Homo sapiens: one gene and its partners. The protein of the gene in region 4 purifies or fractionates together with the protein of the main gene of each other region. This does not show direct contact. Each region holds a gene or a part of one and is shown on either strand. Other genes may lie near its edges.

What was found.
Region 1: the proteins of RGPD8 (region 4) and USP33 purify together in Homo sapiens (co-immunoprecipitation; one large-scale study listed by IntAct). This does not show direct contact.
Region 2: the proteins of RGPD8 (region 4) and EXOC3 purify together in Homo sapiens (co-immunoprecipitation; one large-scale study listed by IntAct). This does not show direct contact.
Region 3: the proteins of RGPD8 (region 4) and WASHC3 purify together in Homo sapiens (co-immunoprecipitation; one large-scale study listed by IntAct). This does not show direct contact.
Region 5: the proteins of RGPD8 (region 4) and RIC3 purify together in Homo sapiens (co-immunoprecipitation; one large-scale study listed by IntAct). This does not show direct contact.

Annotation. Positions count from the first base shown.
Region 1 is NC_000001.11:77,696,910-77,700,996, reverse strand, and holds part of USP33 (ubiquitin carboxyl-terminal hydrolase 33), read left to right. Parts: intron 1-3,065; coding exon 3,066-3,134; intron 3,135-3,522; coding exon 3,523-3,680; 3' UTR 3,681-4,087. UniProt on the Homo sapiens protein: Deubiquitinating enzyme involved in various processes such as centrosome duplication, cellular migration and beta-2 adrenergic receptor/ADRB2 recycling.
Region 2 is NC_000005.10:448,889-453,792, reverse strand, and holds part of EXOC3 (exocyst complex component 3), read right to left. Parts: intron 424-4,904; coding exon 1-423. UniProt on the Homo sapiens protein: Component of the exocyst complex involved in the docking of exocytic vesicles with fusion sites on the plasma membrane.
Region 3 is NC_000012.12:102,011,556-102,015,285, forward strand, and holds the end of WASHC3 (WASH complex subunit 3), read right to left. Parts: intron 1,638-3,730; coding exon 1,553-1,637; 3' UTR 1,285-1,552; downstream 1-1,284. UniProt on the Homo sapiens protein: Acts as a component of the WASH core complex that functions as a nucleation-promoting factor (NPF) at the surface of endosomes, where it recruits and activates the Arp2/3 complex to induce actin polymerization, playing a key role in the fission of tubules that serve as transport intermediates during endosome sorting.
Region 4 is NC_000002.12:112,423,263-112,428,166, forward strand, and holds part of RGPD8 (RANBP2-like and GRIP domain-containing protein 8), read right to left. Parts: intron 1,046-4,904; coding exon 978-1,045; intron 1-977.
Region 5 is NC_000011.10:8,105,117-8,108,755, forward strand, and holds the end of RIC3 (protein RIC-3 isoform a precursor), read right to left. Parts: 3' UTR 940-3,639; downstream 1-939. UniProt on the Homo sapiens protein: Molecular chaperone which facilitates proper subunit assembly and surface trafficking of alpha-7 (CHRNA7) and alpha-8 (CHRNA8) nicotinic acetylcholine receptors.

The DNA of each region.
Region 1 (4,087 bases), on a different chromosome or scaffold from region 4:
CCAGGCACGGTGGCTCACGCCCATAATCCCAAAAGTTTGGGAGGCTGACGTGGGTGGATCACCTGACGTCAGGAGTTCAAGACCAGCCTGAAACATAGTGAAACCCTGTCTCTACTAAAAATACAAAAATTAGCTGGGTGTGGTGGCAGTCACCTGTAATCCCAGCTACTCAGGAGGCTGAGGCAGGAGAATTGCTTGAATCCACGAGGCGGAGGCTGCAGTGAACTGAGATCATGCCACTGTACTCCAGCCTGGGTGACAGAGCAAGACTTTGTCTTTAAAAAAAAAAAAAAAAAAAAGATTCTGATATGTGAAAAAGGCTGCAACAATATGCCTAGTTAAAGCTTTTTGTATTTATGTATTTACTTTTTAAAATTTTAAATTAATAGAGACAAGGTCTTAACCCTGTTGCCCAGGTTTAAGTACAGCAGCATGATTATGGCTCACTGCAGCCCTGAACTCTCAGCCCATGCGATCCTCCTACCTCCATCTCCTGAGTAGTTGGGACTACAGGCATGTACTACCACACTTGGCTAATTTAAAAATTATTTTTTACAATTATTTGTAGAGACATGGTCTCACAGTGTTGCCCAGGAACTCCTGGGCTCAAGCAGTGCACCAACCTTGGCCTCCCAAAGTGCTGAATTACTGAGTTCTCTCTGTATTGTCCAGGCTGGCCTCAAACTCCTGGGCTCCAGCGATCCTCTTGCTTCAGCCTCCTGAGTAGCTGGGACTATAGGTGCACACCACCATATCTGGCTTTTCTACACCTTTAAAAAAATTTATTTTTATTTTGTAAGTTCCAGCATACATGTGCAGGATGTGCAGGTTTGTTACATAGGTAAACATGTGCCATGGCGATTTGCTCCACCTATCAACCCATTACCTAGGTATCAAGCCCAGCATGCATTAGCTGTTTTTCCTGTTGTTCTCCCACCCCTCATCCCTCAACCCCCACCAACAGGCCCTAGTGTGTGTTCTCCTCCCTGTGTCCTTGTGTTCTTGTTGTTCAGCCCCCACTTATAAGTGAGAACATGCAGTGTTTGGTTTTCTGTTCTTGCATTAGTTTGCTGAGGATAATGGCTTCCAGCTCCATCCATGTCCCTGCATAGGACATGATCTCTTTCCTTTTTATGGCTGCGTAGTATTCCATAGTGTATATTTACCACATTTTCTTTATCCAGTCTATCATAGATGGGCATTTGGGTTGATTCCTTATCTTTGCTATTGTGAATAGTGCTGCCATGAACATATGTGTGCATGTATCTTTATAATAGAATGAATTGTGTTCTTTTGGATATATACCCAGTAATGGGATTGCTGGGTCAAATGGTATTTCTGGTTCTAGGTCTTTGAGGAATTGCCACACTGTCTTCCACAATGGTTGAACTAATTTACATTCCCACCAACAGTGTAAAAGTGTTCCCATTTCTCCACAGCCTCGCCAGCATCTCTTGTTTCTTGACTCTCTCTTTTTTTTGAAAAAGAGGCTCACTTTGTCACTCAGGCTGGAGTGGAGTGGCGTGATCTCAGCTCATTGCAACCTCCTCCTGGGTTCAGACGATTGTCCTGCCTCAGCGTCCTGAGTAGCTGGGATTACAGGTGCCGCTGTCATGCCTGGCTAATTTTTCTATTTTTAGTAGAGATGGGGTTTCACCATGTTAGCCAGGTTGGTCTCAAACTCCTGATCTCAAGTGAGCCACCTGCCTCGGCCTCCCAAAGTGGTGGGATTACAGGCATAAGCCACTGGGCCCAGCCTGTTTCTTGACTTTTTAATAACTGGCATTCTGACTGATGTGACATGGTATCTCATTGTGGTTTTGATTTGTGTTTCTCTAATGATCAGTGATGTTGATCTTTTTTTCATGTTTTTTTGGCCACATAAATGTCTTCTTTTGAGAAGTGTTCATGTTCTTTGTCCACTTTCTAATTGGGTTTTTTTAATTGTAAATTTGTTTAAGTTGCTTTTACAACTTTTGATGATGACCATGCGGTTCACTTTTGCCTTAAATTTTAAAAAGAATGTATTTAAACGGTTTCTTTTATAATGCTTTTATTGTTCTTAATGTTACTTTGATAATCTGAAGCAAATTAATTGTATAATTTCTTTCAAATTACAAAGGAATTGCTATTTTATAGCATTAGTGGTACATTTTGACTTGTAATCCCCAAATGGAGAGTTAAAAAATAATTTCTGGGCCGGGCGTGGTGGCTCATGCCTGTCATCCCAGCACTTTGGGAGGCCGAGGGGGGTGGATCACGAGGTCAGGAGATCAAGACCATCCTGGCTAACACGGTGAAACCCCATCTCTACTAAAAATACAAAAAATTAGCTGGGCGTGGTGGTGGGTGCCTGTAGTCCCAGCTACTCGGGAGGCTGAGGCAGGAGAATGGCATGAACCTGGGAGGCGGAGCTTGCAGTGAGCCGAGATGATGCCACTGCACTCCAGCCCTTGGCAACAGAGCGAGACTCCGTCTCAAAAAAAAAAAAAAAAACAAAACATTTCTGTTAAACTGTGATGGTTGTGAACGAGCCTCTCTTACCTTCTTTCCTGGTTCTGTTTTGGGGGAACTAAGAACTAAAAACGAAGAAGCTCAGGAGAAGACATTAAGAATTAACCATAGGCCAGGTGTAGTGGCTCACGCCTGTAATCCCAGCACTTTGGGAGGCTGAGGTGGGTAGATCGTGAGGTCAGGAGTTCGAGACCAGCCTGACCAACATGGTGAAACTCCCATCTCTACTAAAAAAAAAAAAAAAAGCAAAAATTAGCCGGGCGTGGTGGTGTGTGCCTGTATTCCCAGCTACTCAGGAGGCTGAGGCAGGAGAATCACTTGAACCCAAGGCGGAGGTTGCAGTGAGCTGTGATGGTGCCACTGCACTCCAGCCTGGGCAACAGAGCGAGACTCCATCTCAAAAAAAAAAAAAAAGAATTAACTATAATAATTTGCCTGAGAAATAACCAGTCTGATAATGTAGTTATAGGTCACAATTTTGTCAAGCACAAAATTATGCAATTTTTTGTTACATTTCTTTGAAAAATACATTTTGATATTTTTTCCTTTAGATCCTCCAGGTCCTATTGACAATACTAAGATTGCAGTCACTAAATGTGGTAATGTGATGCTTAGGCAAGGTAAGTTTGACTCGTATTTAAGCTTTTACTTGTGAGTGATTTGTCACTGTTAGAAATATGTTATCATTAGTCATCTATAGTACTTTTTTATTCAACTGAAGAATGTAATCCATACATTAACTAGGGCAAGTAATGAAAAGCAGCCACTTTTTTTTTATCTGAGGAAAGGTCTTAAGGCTGTTGTTAAGAGCAAAGCAAAAGCATCTCTGACTTTTTAAGACAAGCCATATGTTTCAGCTTATAACAATATGGGCTGGTAGTCTGCAGATTCATGTTCCAGAAGTTCTCAATTATCCCGAGAAGATTCATGCTGGGGGGTACATTATGAACGCTTTTGCAATATGAATATATAGGTTTGTAAACATTATTTCTTCTACGTAATTTTAAGGAGCAGATTCTGGCCAGATTTCTGAAGAAACATGGAATTTTCTGCAGTCTATTTATGGTGGAGGGCCTGAAGTTATCCTGCGACCTCCGGTTGTTCATGTTGATCCAGATATACTTCAAGCAGAAGAAAAAATTGAAGTAGAAACTCGGTCTTTGTAATTTTTAGGATGTAGAGAGTTCTAATGAGGAATCATTTTCATGTGCCCTGACATGTACACATGCGAAAACATTCCTAAAAGCGTGTTTATTTGCTTTATTTTTTTTCATCATTTATCCCATTTATTTCTTCTTAGTGGGCATTATGGAAGAATATATTAAAATGTGTAATATACCACAGGTTGGTATATTTAGTTTTAAATACTTACCATAAAGTCTTTCAGTGTAATTTTTTTTTGAGACAGAGTCTTGCTTTGTCACCCAGGCTGGAGTGCTGTGGTGTTACCTCAGCTCACTGCAGCCTCCACCTCCTGGGTTCAAGCGATTCTCCTGCCTCAGCCTCTCGAGTAGCTGGGATTACAGGCACCTGCCACCATGCCCGGCTAATTTTTGTATTTTAGTAGAGATGG
Region 2 (4,904 bases), on a different chromosome or scaffold from region 4:
TGCCCTCAATTCTGGTGGTCACAGTCCTCTCCAAGATGGTGAACATTTTCTCCTTCCAATTCTTGGGCCTCCCAGGAGGAACAAAGCCAGTTTGCTTTTTCCGGTCAAGTATGCGCCTGTCAATTTTCTCTTCCCTTTCAATGATCCTGACAACTGAGACCAGCAAGGTGGGGTCACGGCGGACAGTGACCAGTGACCTCTGCAGCACCATCCACAGCTGCTTAGCCAGCTCATCAGAGAGCCCCTGCGTGCTGCCAAAGTAGCCATGGATGAGGGTCATGTCACGCGTGTTCCCACTGTCCATGCGGTACTGCTCGTACATCAGCCCGTCCCGGGAGCACTCCAGGTCCATCAGCTTCCGGTGGGCTTGCAGGAGTGCCCCTTGTTCAATTAGGTCCTGGGTCTCCCTCACAATCTCAGGCACTAGGGAGAAGGCACAAGACACAACATAAACAACCACCACCACATAAAAGGCTGCCTGCATGCGGTGTTCTGGGAACACGGCAGAGCAGGAAGCCACATCTCCCTAGCTAACAACAACTGCAATGGCAGGATGTGTCTGAGGTAACTATCTTTGGAACTCTGGAGTCTATTAAAGGCATAAATGGTAAACTGTGGTTAACTGTGGTCATTTGCAGCTCTCAGCTGGGCAGTGGCTACCGAGGCCCCACCTCCCACCCCGCAGGCAGCTGTGCATGTGCTGATGTGTTCCTAAAGCTGCCTGCACACAGCCTGCAGCCTGGCTGGGCAAAAAGAACCCTGTCCTCCACACCGGAGATCTGTACTCAGATCACTGACTGCTGCTTCTGACCACAGAGGTGCGAAGAGGTAAGTGGCCACTGTTGCATCTTCCCCTGTTCACAGGTCCCTCCTCACCCCCACAGAGCTCCAGGGAATTTAAAGGGCCAATGTCTTCACCACCCCCTTCATCTGTTCCCCTTCTTGAAAGCCAGATATTTATGAATGAAGACATTCAAAAGTAACTGCATTTATAGGAAAAATTCGGAAGTGGCCAATGCATGCCCAGGCAAAGGCATAGGCTCAGAAAAGACTTGACACGACCTTGAAGTTCACACCTCAGGCTGTGCCTTGGCACAGAGAGCCTACAACAACCAAAAACAAGAATCATCAACCTGGGAAGGGGATCTGATTTCCAGAGTTATCACATTATTCGATTCAAGTGTCCATTTTTCAACAACAAAAACATCACAAGGCACCCAAAGAAAGAAGAAAGTATGGCCCATTCAAAGGAAAACATAAGAAACTGTTCCTGTAAAAGATCTGATGGCAGATCTACTAGAGAAAGACTTTAAAACAACGATTTAAAGATGCCTAAGGAACTTAAAGATGTGAAGAAAGACATGTATGAGCAAAATGGAAATACCAATAATGAGACAGAAAATCCAAAAGGAAACCAAACAGAAAATATGAAGCTGAAAAGTACAATAAATGAAATGAAAAATTCACTAAAGGGATTCAAAGGCAGATCTGCACAGGCGCAAGAAAGAATCAGTGAATGTGAAGACAGGACAATGGGAAATATCAAGTATCCGGAACAGAAAGAAAAAAGATTGAAGAAAAGTGAACAGAGCCTCAGGGACCTTGTGGACATCATCAAGCAGGCCAACATATGCTTAGTGGGACTTTTAGAAGGAGAAGAGAGAAATGGGCAAGACATTATTTGAAGAAATAATAGGTGAAAACTCCCCACATTTGATGAAAGACATGAATATGAAGATCCAAGAAGCTCAATGACCTCCAAGCAAGAGGAACTCAGAGGTCCACACTAAGATACAACTTAATCAAACTTTTGAAAGAATTCTGAAAGCAGCAACTTGTCAGAAACAAGGGCTCCAAAATAAGATTATGAGCAGATCAGATTTCTCACCAGAAACTTTGGAGGCCAGAGGCAGTGGGATGACATATTCAAAGTGCTAAAAGAAAAATACTGTCAACCAAGAACCTTAAATCTAGCAAAATGGTCATTCAAAAGTGAGAGCGATATTAAGACATCCCCAGATAAACAAAAGCTGAAAAGCTTGTTACCACAAGATCTGCCCTGCAAGAAATGCTTAAATAGAGTCCCACTGGTTGAGAAGAAAGAATGCTAGAGAGCAACTGGAAGCCACGTGAAGAAGCAAAGGCCTCAAAAAAGGTAAATTCATGGACAATCGTAAAATCTAGTATCATTAACACTTCAGTTTTTAACTCATCACTCTGTTTCGTACATGACTTAAGAGACTAATATTTGTTCTGGTTAAAAGGGACAAATAAAAAAGAAACTAATACATTAAAAAATAGTCTAAAAGCTACTAATACTGTAACTTTGGATTCTAACTCCACATTGTTTTCTACCTAATTTTTAAAAATGAATGCATTAAAAAACAATTATTAGTCTATGATTTTGGACACATGATATATAAAGATGTAATTTTGTGAAATGAACAACCCAAAGGGAGTGGAGATGAAGCCATATAGGGACGGTTTTTGTGTGTTATTGAAGTTAAGTTGATATAAATTCAAACTGAAGCGAGATAATGTTAGATGTTAAGTGTAATCTTTATGGTAGGCACAAAGAAAACAGCTATAGAATATACGCAAAAGAAACAAGGGAATTAAAATGTTTACTACCAAAATAATCAAAAGCACAAAAAAAATGCAGAAATAAGAGACAAAAATGTTATACCGCATATAGAAAACAAACAGCAAAATGACAGAAGTCCCTTCTTATCAGTAATCACTTAAATGTAAGCTCTTCCATCAAAAGAGGTAGGCAAAATTAATTAAAATCTTCAATCAAAAGAGGTAGACAAAATAGATTTAAAAAATAAAACATGATTCAACTCTATGTGTTCACCAGAGACTGACCTTAGAGCCCAAGACACAAATAGGTTGAAAGTAAAAGGGTGGAAAAAGATATTCCATATAAATAATAACCAAAAGAGAACAGGAGTGGTTATACTAATAAATATGAAATATACTTTAAATTAAAAAAAAAAAAACTAGTCACAAAGAAGGCCATATGTATTAATAGAAGGTTCAGCAAGAAGATGTAACAATTATAAATATTTCTGCATTTACTAACAGACCGTCAAAATACATGAAGCAAAAATGGATAGAACTGAAGGGAAAAACATTCAGTTCTGTAATAGTCGGAGGCTTCAATATCTCTCTCTCAATAATGGACAGAACAAGCAGACAGAAGCTAAACAAGGAAAGAGAGGACTTGAACAATGCAACCAACCAACCAGACTGAACAGACACAGAAAGAACACCCAACAACAGAACACACACTATTCTCACGTGCACATGGGACAGTCTTCAGGAAAGACCATGGATTAGGCCTCAAATTAAGACTCAGGTTTTTAAAAGATAAATATCATACAAAGTATCTTCTCCAAACTCAACAGATGACATTAGAAATCAGTATCAGAAGGAAAACTGTAAAATTCACCAATTTGTGGAAATTAAACAACATACTCTTAAACAATTAATGGGGCAAAAAAGGAAACATAAGGGACTTTTGTTTTGTTTTGTTTTGTTTTTCAGATGAAGTCTCGCTCTTGTCCCCCTGGCTGGAGTGCAGTGGTGCGATCTCGGCTCACTGTGACCTCTGCCTCCTGGGTTCAAGTGATTCTCCTGCCTCAGCCTCCTGAGTAGCTGGGATTACAGGCGCCTGCCACCACGCCCGGCTAATTTTTATATTTTTAGTAGAGACGGGGTTTCACCATGTTGGCCGGGCTGGTCTCAAACTCCTGACCTCAGGTGATCCGCCTGCCTCAGCCTTCCAAAGTGCTGGGATGACGGGCGTGAGCCACCGCACCCAGCCATAAGGGATATTTTTAAAAACCTAAGAGAAGAATGAAAATGCAGACGAATCAGAAACCTCACACACTCATGGTGGAAAATGCTGCAGCCACCGGAGGAAACAGTCTGGCAGCTGCTCAAAGATTTAAACATAAATTACCACATGGTCCAGCAATTACACTTGTGTGTATATACCAGAAAGAAATAAAAGTAAAACATCTGTACACCCATGTTCACTACAGCATTATTCACAATAGCTAAAACGTGGAAGCAATTCAAATGTCCACCAACAGACAAACGGATAAGCAAAATGTGGTCCATCCATACAATGGAATATTATTCAGCCTTAAAAGTGAAGGAAATTCTACAATACCACAGCATAGAAGACCCCTGAGGACATCATGCTGAGTGAAATAAGCATGTCACAGAAAGACAGATAATGTGTGATGCCACTTCTATGAGGTCTTCAGAGTCATCCAATTCACAGAGACAGAAGGCAGAATGGTGGTGACCAGGAGCTGGGGCAGAGGGTGCGAAGTCAGTGTTTAATGGGTACAGATTTTCATGTCTGCAAGATGAAAAGAGTTCTGAAGACGGATGTGGCAATGGTTGCACAACAATATGAATGTTCTTAATAGTCCCCAACTGTACACTTAAAAATGGTTAAGACGGCAAACTGTACATATGCATTTTAGAAGAAGAAAAAATGGGGGAGGGGAGCTGTGTACACAGCATTGCTGAGTTATAGGCAATGAGACAAGTCTGAAGGCAACCAAACCAATCTTCTCAATGAAAATTTATCCGTAACAAAAAACATGCATACCACGCAGGCTCATTTGTTCACCAAGGAAAGGAAATTATTTTCAACTGCTGTGGATAAACTAATTCCAGTAATGCACCTTTTTGGTCATCAGGCATTAGTTTAAAAGACCGGAAGGAAATGTAGCCAGCCAATACGAAATAAGAGGAAATTAACTAGAAAGCTGCCAGCTGAGCATCACCAAGGAGACTCCGTCGAGAGGACTTTATTCCTGTTCCAGGCGGCCCACAGTCACCAAGAAGAGCTGCTTTCTGAGTTGGCAGCACAGTGGCGTTCG
Region 3 (3,730 bases), on a different chromosome or scaffold from region 4:
CCTCTCCCTGTTTTTTTACTTCTGTTTTCTGGGATCACCTTGTGAATGACCTGTATACACCCAAGTCCTTTTCTCAGGCTCTACTTGCAGGTGAACTAAACTAAAATGGGCACAATTAGTTAAATGCATTTATATATTTTTCACATAAGTACTTTAGGAATTTTCTAGACTGTGTGTAAATAACTATGAATAATAATTATTTATTTGCAAGGTGAGGTGAGAACATTTTAATCCTGCACACATTTTTTTTTGTTTAGGTAATACAGGAGTTGATGGCAACGATGGTTACTCATTATGAACCACACTGAAACGACCTTCAATTCAATTTCCATCTGCTAATAAATATAGTCAAGTGCTGCATAATGTTTTGGTCAACATCCCCTAAGATTATAAAACCATATTTGACTGCACCTTTTCTACATTTAGATACACAAATACCACTGTGTTACAACTGCCTACAGTATTCAGTACAGTGACATGCTGTGCAGGTTTGTAGCCTAGAAGCAATAGGTTTGTGTAAGTACACTTGTTATGAAATCCACAATGTTTGTACAATAAAACCGCCTAATGACGCATTTCTCAGAACATATCCCTGTTGTTAATCAATGCATGACTGCATAAGAATATCTGACTTAAAAAACACATGAACTAATGGCCAAGTGGTGAAAGGCTGCATATGCTAAAAAATACTACCAAAAAGTTCCATACCCATAACATATGTGATATGTAAGTTTTAAGTTGTCAAAGAAATTTCAACCCAGTATTACTTTCTACCAGAAATGTCTTTAACAACTCATGATATGAATCCATATACTTTTCATGCTAAAATATTCACAAAAATTGAATAATTCACTTAGCCAAATTCACTGTTTTTTTTTTTTTTTTGCATTGGGTCTACTATTGATCACTAAACTCACACTGACTTCATTTAAAATTGCTCATTGCATCTCTTTTTATTTTTAAGACAGAGTTTCACTCTTGTCGCCATGGCTGGAGTGCAATGACGCAATCTCAGCTCACTGAAACCTTTACCTTCTGGGTTCAAGTGATTCTCCTGCCTCAGCTTCCCGAGTAGCTGGGATTACAGGCACCTGCCACTACGCCCAGCTAATTTTTGTCACCACGCCCAGCTACTTTTTGTATTTTTAGTAGAGATGGAGGTTTCACCATGTTGGCCAGGCTGGTCTTGAACTCCTGACCTCAGGTTATCCACTCGCCTCGGCCTCCCAAAGTGCTGGGATTACAGGCGTGAGCCACCGTGCCTGACTGTAATTGCTCATTGCATCTCTAAAATATTCTATCTTAGTATTTGTAGCACTAATTGTACTTTATTTAGGTTATCCTATTTTTCATTTTGAGGCCCTTTATTTTAGCAACAAGACATACTGGCAGGTTAAAACTGCTTTATTATTATTTTTTTAACATAGAAGAAGCTTGGTAGTGGACATGTGGCCATTTGATGTTTTTATGACTAAGAGAGTTCAGGCTCAATCTCTTACAGAATGTAAATGTACCCCTATGCATGCATATGTAATTCTTATCAAAATTAAGCTTAATCACTAAAAGAAGATTCGCTATCTGAACTTTCTTCTACAGTTTTCTCACTTTCGCCATCAGGCACTGGAGCATCTGGCCTCCTAAAAGAAAAGAAAAAAAAATTTCAAAGGTCTTTTCCAATTGAAAAGAGCACTTACAAACTCTTAAATTTGGTTCATCTTAGAATATTGCTGCTAATAAATCTGCCAAGTCCGTGTCCTCAGTCTCCTGCTCTACACCACAGCGTGCTTCTCTCGGGCTTCTTGGGCACCATGGGGATTCAATGCTATGCCTGTAGAGGCCGCGACAGTATTTTCTCTTGCCAGTCCTTACATAGTGCGCTACTTCAGCACTTTCTGCTTCTCATTACCATGGAGACCCAATTATAGACAGAGATGTGATCTGTAGAGGCTGGCATGACCAGTGCTAAGTCCCTGAAGCTTCCAAGTGTACATGAGGTACAGAGAAAGGAAAGCTAGAAATGAAAAGAAAAGGAAATGCTTCATGTTCAGGAAAGCTGCAGGGAGAAACTTAGAAATGGAAGAGAGTTCAAAAATGGCTAATAAAAAAATAGGTAATGTGGAAATTTTGTAGCGAAGGAGAGTGCCTGGTCGAAGAAGGTTCTTAATGTTTGTTAAACGTTTTCACTTACATGTTTTATCTTTACAGAATGAAAATAGAAAGTATGAGTTGGCAAAAATACTGTTTCAAAGATCCCCTAGGCATTATAAGGAGACATGAGAATGGTTAGATTCCAACTTTGCATGGATGTGCTCTAATAAACCAAAATGAAATTTTAATGATGTTATTAAAACAGTCAACTAGTTAAGCCTCAATAGTTTTGTGCCAGTAAGTCATTTAATCAGTGTAGTGGCATTATCACTTAGCCTCTATTCACTCTTACCAAGAAAGTAAATTAAGCAAGAAAAGTATTTTTGGGGGGGAAACCAAGAGGAAAAGGAGTAACAATATAACTGCTACATCTTTTTTTTTTTTTTTTTTTTTTTTTGAGATGGAGTCTCGCTCTTGTCACCAGGCTGAAGTGCAATGGTGTGATCTCGGCTCACTGCAACCTCTGTCTCCCAGGTTCAAGCCATCCTCTTGCCTCAGCCTCCCGAGTAGAGGTGTGTGCCACCACGCCCAGCTAATTTTTGTATTTTCAGTAGAGACGGGATTTCACCATGTTGGCCAGGATGGTCTTGATCTCCTGACCCTGTGATCCACCCGCTCTGGCCTCCCAAAGTGCTGGGATTATAGATGCGAGCCCGTGCCTGGCCTATAACTGCTGTATCTTAATAATTACAAACTACCAGACTGATTTCTCCCTCAGGCTTGACTCTTATTAAACATTTAGGACACTTAAAAATAAAACTCATATTCACCACAAACAGAAATTACTATTACTAAAATAAGAAAATGCACAGTCTAACAGTTACTTTAGGTATTAAAATTATGGCTTATATTTTTAAATATATTTGGCATACTACAAAAGAGAAAATAATGCTGGCATTGCTCCCTAGTTGTCAAATATAAACCCATTTGCTCTGCTGAACAATTTTAGATTATATCTACAAGGAAGCATTATGTAGTCAATACAGTGAAACTTTAAAGCTGGGTACAGCAGTTCCAGGATTTGACTGATGCTCCATCTGCCTAAAATACTAACATGGGACCATCATCTTCCTCCCTTTTCATTAGAAGCAACAACTCTAGAATTAGTGGGTATGAATACTAGGCACATTTTACCCAGTAAATTTCTCTTTGCTATATATTTGATTTCTTACTGTCTATACTTTGTTAAGTAGGAAAACATTACCAGTGGGAATTATTTTAATACCACATCAAAATTGTATTAGTACCTATGACAACTCAAACAAATACAACAATGTACATAACTTCCTAAAATAAATGCTACTTTAGAAAAGGGTAGGCCAGGGATGTCGATTCATGCCTGTAATCCCAGCACTTTGGGAGGCCGAAGAGGGCGTTTTGCTTGAGCCCAGCAGTTCAAGACCAGCCTGGGCAACAGGGCAAAACACCATCCTTTGCAAAAAAATAGAGAAATTAGCCAGTAGTGGCCTACTGTGCCAGCTACTTTGGAGGCTGAGGTGTATCACTTGAGCCTGGGGGCAGAGGCTGCAGTAAGCTGTGACCATGCCTGGGCACTCCAATCTGGGCAACAGAGTGAAACCCT
Region 4 (4,904 bases):
TAGGCCAGACCTAAACTAAGGGATTAAAGTCTCACAGTAAAAAGGTACAAGAGTTAACAGTCACAGTGCTGCTAGTTACATAATTTATGTACCACCATTTTCCTTTCTTACCAGCATTTCCATCTTCCTTTGGATGCCTTTAAAAGCCTGCCTCCCAGCTGGGAGCAGTAACACACACCTGTAGTCCCAACACTATGGGAGGCCGAGGCAGGCAGACTGCTGTGCTCAGAAGTTCAAGACTAGCCTGGGCAACATAGTGACACCTGTCTCTACCAAAAAATGCAAACCTTAGCCAGGTCCACGTGGTGGTGCGCATCTGTATCCCCAGCTACTTGGGGCGCTGAGGTGGGAAGATCGCTTGAGCCCAGAAGGCAGAGGTTACAGTGAGCAAAGATGGAGCCAGCTGCTGCACTCCAGCCGGAGCAAGAGAGACAGATACTGCCTAAAAAAAAAAAAAAGCCTGCCTCCCTCTTAATTTCCTGCTTTAATCCACTCCCAGCCAGGAAATCAGAATCACCAAGCTTCTTATCCCTAGGATAGAGCCTTACAGCATCACATATTGTGTCAATTAAAGATCTTTTATACAAGCTATTCTCCTGCCTTACAATTACAGTTTAGTTTTTTATTCATTGCTATTTTCCATCTGATTAAGGTATCAGATATCTAACCAAAAACAAATTAAGATATAGGCATGGTCCTCTTTTACTCCAACAGAAGACAATTTTTAGAAAAAGTGTTTTAAGCCAAACAATTTCTTGCCCTTGGTATAAAGCAGCAGCATGCAGAAAACACTAATTGCAGTTTCAATCTCAATGGAATCTAGGCTGGTCCTTAGCATCAGTCTGAGTGATAAATCCCTTATTCCAGAATACACTTAGGAAGAACTACTAAGAACATATTTTTACCTATTTCAAAGAAGAAAATGAGAAAAGGCATTGATTTTAAAAAAAAGAATACATGTTACGGTTTGTACTTACTTTTTAGCAAGATCATATTCTTTAGCTTCATAATACAGCTTTGCAAAATAGAATCCTTTCATTGACTTCTAAAAAAAAATTAAAAGTTGTTTTATGTTTCATACAGAAATATTTTCCAACATTTTTTCAAAAGTAGTTAAAGCCTGACAAATGCATAATTCCATGTTTTATAATTTCCTACCACAAAACAAAAAATAGAGCTGGGTGCAGCGGCTCATGCCTGTAATCCCAGCACTTTGGGAGGCCGAAGTGGGCGGATCACCTGAGGTCAGGAGTTTGAGACCAGCCTGGCTAACATGGTGAAACCCCGTCTCTACAAAAATAGAAAAATTAGCCAGGCATGATGGCGGGTGCCTGTAATCCCAGCTACTCAGGAGGCTAAGGCACAAAAATCAGTTGAACCCAGGAGGTGGAGGTTGCAGTGAGCCAGAGGTTGCAGTCAGCTGAGATCGTGCCATTGCACTCCAGCCTGGGCGACAGAGACTCCATCTCCCAAACATCATCATCATCATCATCATCATCATCATCATAAATAAGCTGGGTGCAGTTGGTCACACCTTTAATTCTATTTAATTCTAGCACTTTCAGAGACCAAGGTGGGAGGCTAGCTTTGAGGCCAAGAGTTTGAAACCAGCCTGTGCAACACAACAAGATCCTGTCTCCAGGGGGAAAAAAATAGCCAGGCATAGTGGAGCATGCCTGTGTTCCTAGCTACTCAGGAGGCCAAGGAAGGAGAATCACTTGAGCCCAGGAGGTTGACACTGCCGTGAGTTATGACTGTGACACTGCACTCCAGCCTGGGTGACACAGGGAGATCCTCTCTCTAAATAATAAATACATAACATACAAAAAATAAATTCAAGAAAGCAAGACAAGCAGACAACAGAAGTTAAGAATTTTCATCAGCCTTGGAAATCTCGGAAACCCTGTGGTACCACTCTCTCACTTAACAAACAAAAGAAACCAGCTTTCTTTGGGGAGGAAAGGTATTCCAGAAATCTCTTCTCCTACCATGTGTAAGCCTCTATGGGAAAGAATAAATAAGTACTTAGGATCTATTAAGGCACTGAGGATTCCCGGGTCCATGTACTGTTCTCTCTACAGATCAGATCAGTATTTTACAGTCAAGGAGTCAAAAAGGCAGAAATAAATATTGAATTCTTCAAGTAATAAACGAGGTCCACAGCCTGGATCCTTGGTTACATAAACTCCAAAGTCCAAAATGCTGATGCACACCAGGCTGGGTGCGGTGGCTCACACCTGTAATCCCAGCACTTTCGGAGACTGAGGCGGGTGGATCACTTGAAGCCAAGAGTTCGAGACCAGCCTGGCCAACATACAGAAACCTCCTTTCTACTAAAAATACAAAAATTAGCTGGGCATGGTGGCACACGCCTGTAATCCCCGCTGCTTGGGAGGCTGAGGCAAAGAATCACTTGAACCCGGGAGGCAGAGGCTGCAGTGGGCCAAGATCGCACCACTGAACTCCAACCTGGGCAACAGAATGATTCCATCTCAAAAAAAAAAAAAAAAAAATGCTGATACAACCAGAGTATGTTCCATCCATGTGATAGAGTATACAGCTACTCAAACATCTTATTTTTGAAATTCCAAGACCCCAGTGAATGTCCAAAACGATGAATAGTACCAAACCAGGTTGCCATCAATCGAAACATGTTTCCTGTTTGTGTCCTCCACCCACAAATTTAATGTCTTGTCCATCTCAACTAAGCACTTATCACACACTGTGGCTGTAACTTTTGCAGTTTGGGGTGTCACAACAAAACTAGCACAAATTTCTTTTTCCTTCTTCACAATTTCATGGACAAAAGATTTGTTCTTACCATAGATCTCAGCAACCCCAGTATATGATCTTTTTTCTTTCCTAAGTCAAAAACTCACCTCTTCACTTAAAGGAAGCACTATATGGCTTCTCTCTGGCATATGTGAACTGCCAGCATCGCTATTCTTGCTCTTTGGTGCCATTTTAAATAAAATAAAGGTCACTTGAACACAAGCACTGCAATACTCCAACAACTGATCTGATAACTGAGGTGGCTAGTATGTAACTAGCGGGTGGGGAGCACATACAGCATGAATATGTTGGACAAAGGGATGATTCGTGTCCTGGGTAGGACGGAGCAGGAGGCCGTGAGATTTTTATCATGTTATTCAGACCTGTTTGCAATTTAAAACTCATGAAATGTTTATTTATATAATCTTCCATTCAATATTTTTGGACCACGGGTGACGCAGGTAAGTAAAACCACGTAAGGCAATACTGTGGATAAGAAGGGACTACTGTACCAGCAACGAACAATCAGAAAATGAAATTAAGAAAGCAATTCCATTTACAATCGCATCTAAAAGAAAAAAATGCCTGGGAATAAATGTAAACAAGGAGGTGAGAGACTTGTATGCTTAAATTACAAAACCTTGCTCAATGCCAGGCTAACACCTGCAATCCCAGCACTGGCGACAGAGCAAGACTCCGTCTCAAAAAAAAAAAGAACTATAGCAATCTTAACAAAAATAATACACAACAGTCAGGACAGCACATAAAGGAACAAGTCCTGTTCCCCCCTTCCTTTTTTTTTTTTTTTTTGAGATGGAGTCTTGCTCTGTCGCCAGGCTGGAGTGCGGTGGCTCGATCTCAGCTCACTGCAACCTCTGCGTCCCGGGTACAAGCTGGGACTACAGGCGCACGCCACCATGCCCAGCTAATTTTTGTATTTTCAGTAGAGATGGGGTTTCACCATGTTGGCCAAGATGGTGTCGATCTCTCGACCTTGTGATCTGACTTCTTCCGCCTCCCAAAGTGCTGGGATTACAGGCATCAGCCACCGAGCCCGGCCAGTTCCCCCTTTTCAAAATGAAGAAATAGATTCAAGGTACAATGCCAAAACATAATAGAAAAATAATTCCATTACCTTCTTTGCTTCCAACTATGTTAAAACATAATAGAAAAATAATTCCATTACCTTCTTTGCTTCCAACTATGTTATTAAAGTAGACAATCTTAAGATAATTAAACAACTTTACAAATTATTCTTCTATATGATCTTTTGCCTCTAACCTGCTCACTTTACAAGGGAACTGAAGCTCAAGCAGACAAATGCCTTGTTTAAAGATATACAGCTAGAAAGGAGCACAGCCCATGTTATGTAAACAGGACAATATCTGATGCAAGCAGTACTTCTTTACATGACAGCAGATGTCACTATAAGCAAATACCTGAATTCACTTAAGCTGCCAAATATCAAGAACTGATGCAGGGCTGAAAACAGGAACAGTAAGACCCTAAGAGATGCCACATCATCGCTATCTTGCACAGTAAGATAGAGATGTAATTGTAATTGTCCAAAACTTAATATTTGTGGCCTACTTTTTCATTATGCAGTTCTAAATTTCTCTCTTTTTTTTTTAATTCAAACGGAGTCTCACCCTGTCGCCCATCTTGCACAGTCAAATGAATCTCCCTCCCCCTAAAATCCTCCAAAAAAGCTGCTGTTCTCAACAAACCCATCTGATCAGCTCCAAATCTGTGGAGTCCCAACAAGGGTGAAGGCCGTGATTATACAGGACAATGAGGAAAAGTCTAGATACTGAACCATGAGTTCCCCAATCTTCTTCCCCTGGAACATAAGGGTAAGGAAATCTCTCAAAAGGCAGAACAAACAAAAGAGGAGAATAAGAGAAAAATTAGAGAAACTCCAGCTTTCAGGTAAACATCATTAAAAAAAAGGGTAAGAAATGGTCAAAGAAATAATACAAGAAATGCTACAGAACTGAAAGAAATGAGTTTCCCAATTGAAAGGACACTTCCAGAAAACCTTTAAGTTACCAAGAACAAGAATCTCATGGGACTCCTAACAACAGAACTTCTAGAAAATGGAGCAATGCTTTCAAAATTGCAAAAAAAATTAT
Region 5 (3,639 bases), on a different chromosome or scaffold from region 4:
TATGCAAGCACAAATTTCATCTCCTAGATGGACTTCCTGGTTTTCTCTTACTGCAGTAACACTGGCCTTCCCTTCTCTAATTCCTTACCCCAGCTGCGGCATCCCTGTGTTAACTCAGGATGCCAAGTGGCCCTCAGATTACACTTCTCCAGATAGCTGAATGAGTCTGCTTTCACTGTGACTGGGACCTGAATGACCTGCAGTCAGGGCCCAGAGTTGGGACTCTATACTACCCTGGGCTCTGGTCTGTAGGTTTGTAGTAGCCACCGGTAATAAGCCAAGGGCTAGGCTCTTGTTTGAGTTTATGGCCACCTGGAATTTTCAGTCATCTCATGATACAGGCGGGAGGGGCAGAACAGATAGATTACGACAGGTTTGGTTTTTAAATTTTCCAACCAAGTGGAAAGGCAAGTTGGTCTTATAGAAAGCACTACTGCACTTAGTAGCTATGTGATTTTGAGCAAACCACATAATCTCTCTAGGTCCATTTTCCTAACCACAAGATAAAGATGTTACATTGTCAAAGCTTGCCGTAGGATTTGGGGTGAATGAAAATTATTCCTTGCTTTCATCACTACCTTTATAGCTCTCATCACTACCTTTATAGCTCATCACTGTGCCTTTTTTTCTTTCCTAAGAAAGACATCACATCCCTCTCCTCTCCTCCTCTGTGCTCCTGTCCCTCCCTCCCCCTAGCAAGGTCCAGGCAAAGCTGGAGATGAGGCTGAGATCCAGAGTTTCCTAGAACGCAACTTAGGATGGCTAGGAAAGGGAAGCCTGACTGCTCGGTCAGGAGGGTGCAGTATCTCTTGCTGGGAACACAGCCAGTTTTCACAATGCCTAGACTGTGTATGTCTATTTGCACAAGATTGTCTTTTCCTATTTTGGAGTGGTCAGACATTTTATTTTTGTTCAAGATTATCTGGCGTTTTAGACAAATTTGCAAAACTGTGCTTTTATTGACTTTTTGAATAAACTTTGGTATTCTGGAGCAAATGTATTTATTTATTGGTATGTGCAATGACAAACTTGGTATTTTCCCATGTTGACATTATGTATGTTGTAGAATTTAGTGTTTGTCTAAGTACACACATATATCAACAAATTAAACTTGAATCGTTTCAACACTTCTGTGTACTTTTTTCATAAAGGGGAAAAAAGCCCTGTTTACTTCCTAATTTTTTTCTATACCTTTCATTCATTGTTTCCTAGGAGCCTCAGGTGGGTAAGTAGGTGATAATAGCAAAGAGATCATAACCTCACCAATGACATGTGGGTCAACACTGTCCTTCCTCTGGCCTGTGCCTTTCAAGTTTAAGGTTCATCAGAACCACACCCAGAGGCTGGAAAAATGGTGAAGTCAGAAGGTACTTAAGTTAGAGCAGTTCTCTTCAGGGTCTGCTGTGCCGCCTGAAGGGGCTGGTGGTTCCTCAGTATCCCCTGTGGGCCTGGCCTTAGGAAGAGAACAGGGCTGTAGAGATGAAAAAGGTATAAAAGACCCAACCACTTGATGTCTCAGGGCTTGCTTGGACCCTAACCCATTTAAACAGGACCTCGAGATGCTTAGGAATCTTTTTTTGTTGCCGGGCAGCTGTGGCAGATTTGAAGGCAAAAGGAAGGGAGGCTACAGTTGTAGCTAGAAGCAGACATGAAAGCTAATGGTCTGACCCAGACAAGAGGTTATAACTAAAGGCACCCGGAGACTGCAGAAGGGCCCTGGGCCACTCCTGGCAATCAGGGTAGCCTTAGAGGGTGTCAGGTGTGACATCTCAGCAACACTGGACTTGACAGAGTGGTGACAGGGATCATGCTGTCACCAAGCACCTACCACATGCTTTGCCCTGGCACAGACACTTTATAAACAGCATCTTATTTAATCCAAACAGCCCTGTAAATAGAGCATTATTCCCAATTCATGGGGAAACTGGTTCTCTGAGAGGTTAAGGAATGACCTAAGAGGAGAAATTTGGGCTATTTTCTTTGTATAAAAAAAGGGAAATAAAGGAAAAGGAAGCACATTTTAGAAAAGTCAATGGTCAAGGCAAAGTCATAAATGTGTTCATGTTTTTTCTCAATATTGCTGAATAGCTAAAGCACTAAATTTTTCTTTGGAATACAAATAGTCCAGATTGAAGAGAACTTTGAGAGTGTGGTAATAATTCGGGTTTGTTTATTCCCCCAGATCTAGAGTTCTGATGTGACCAAGAGCATTTCCTACCTGAACCATGGCCTATCTCCTGTGGCCTCTGCCTCTGGTGGGAAATAGCGCATACAGGATATTCTAAAAAGGAAAGAGGGTTTTGTTTGTTTAGTCATCAGGTTCAAAAATCTTAAATGGCTATAGACAGGGGTGACCCTACGTCCAGGACAGTCTTAGTTTATGCCTATCACCTTGGCATAATTATATTAAAGCTCCCTTTTTCCAAAGTGTTTGAATTTGGACCTTAAGTTATTTGATCACCCAAGCCATATAAGGTGCATTGTATGGTTCTCAAAGGCCGTTGATTCTACAGGCCAAATACACCTCCACTCCTCATCACGACTCCCTGGGCCCAGCTTCTGGAGCTAGTCATGGAGATAATGGTTTCTTTGTGCTCCTGTTGTGACCAGGAAAGGGGATCTCCTGGCTGCACCACCCACCTGATTTACCAAGAGTGATCCCAGATTATGCAGTTGTTTTGTGAGCTAACTGTCCATAAAGGTATGACTTGTGTACTCTGCCACAGTGCCAAAAGGCCAGGGGACTGATCAAGTTCCCAGCACCCTCGTGAGAAATGAAGACCGCAAGAAAAGAGACAGCAGCCCTGGCAACAAAAACCGGACCCATGATTTTGTCATCCTGGGTTGTATATACACATATAACTGTCATCCCCGAAGGATAAAATAATTCTGGAAAATCCAAAAAGAATTTTCTAAATCCTAAATAACTGAAAGGTACATCCAAATGTCTGATATATAAATACACAAATATATTCCTTATATATAAACCAACCAAGAGCTAGGGCAGGAAGAACCACCATAAGGGCTTAGTACTTCTGGCAGGAATTTCCATAAGCCAATTTTCCCCAAAGACCAACAACACTTTACATAACAGCCTCACCAAAATACTTGAACATCCATGTATTTTCACACCCTACTGCTTTTTTCAACAACTCTTTCTGCCAAGAGTGTCCTCTCTTCTTTGCCTACCTGAAGAAGTTCTTTGCATGCCTCAAGGCCCACCTCCCAAGAAACTGTGAAGTTTCTTGGCAATACTTTAGCAAAAACAATTTATCTTTCCTGTAGTTTTGGGCCCATGTCTGAATTACAGCATAGCCCTTATAATAAAAACATAATTACCACTTAATGAGTGGTTATCATGTATGAGCTAGAACCAATGCTGTTTTACACACACTGATGATTTCATTTAACCAGGACCTTTAATACCCCTCCCTTTACTACCCTGAAGCCAAAGCTCAGACCAGTTAAGGAGCTGACCCAAGATTCCACAGCTAGAAAATGCAGGGACAGATTATGGCTCATGTTTCTCTGCCTGCAGGATTCACGATCCTGAGCCCTCTTACAGGGTCATAGTTCATTTTATCTGTCAGGCTCTCTCTCGTCACACTGAGTTTTCTGAGGGTAGAGATTGAGCCTCTG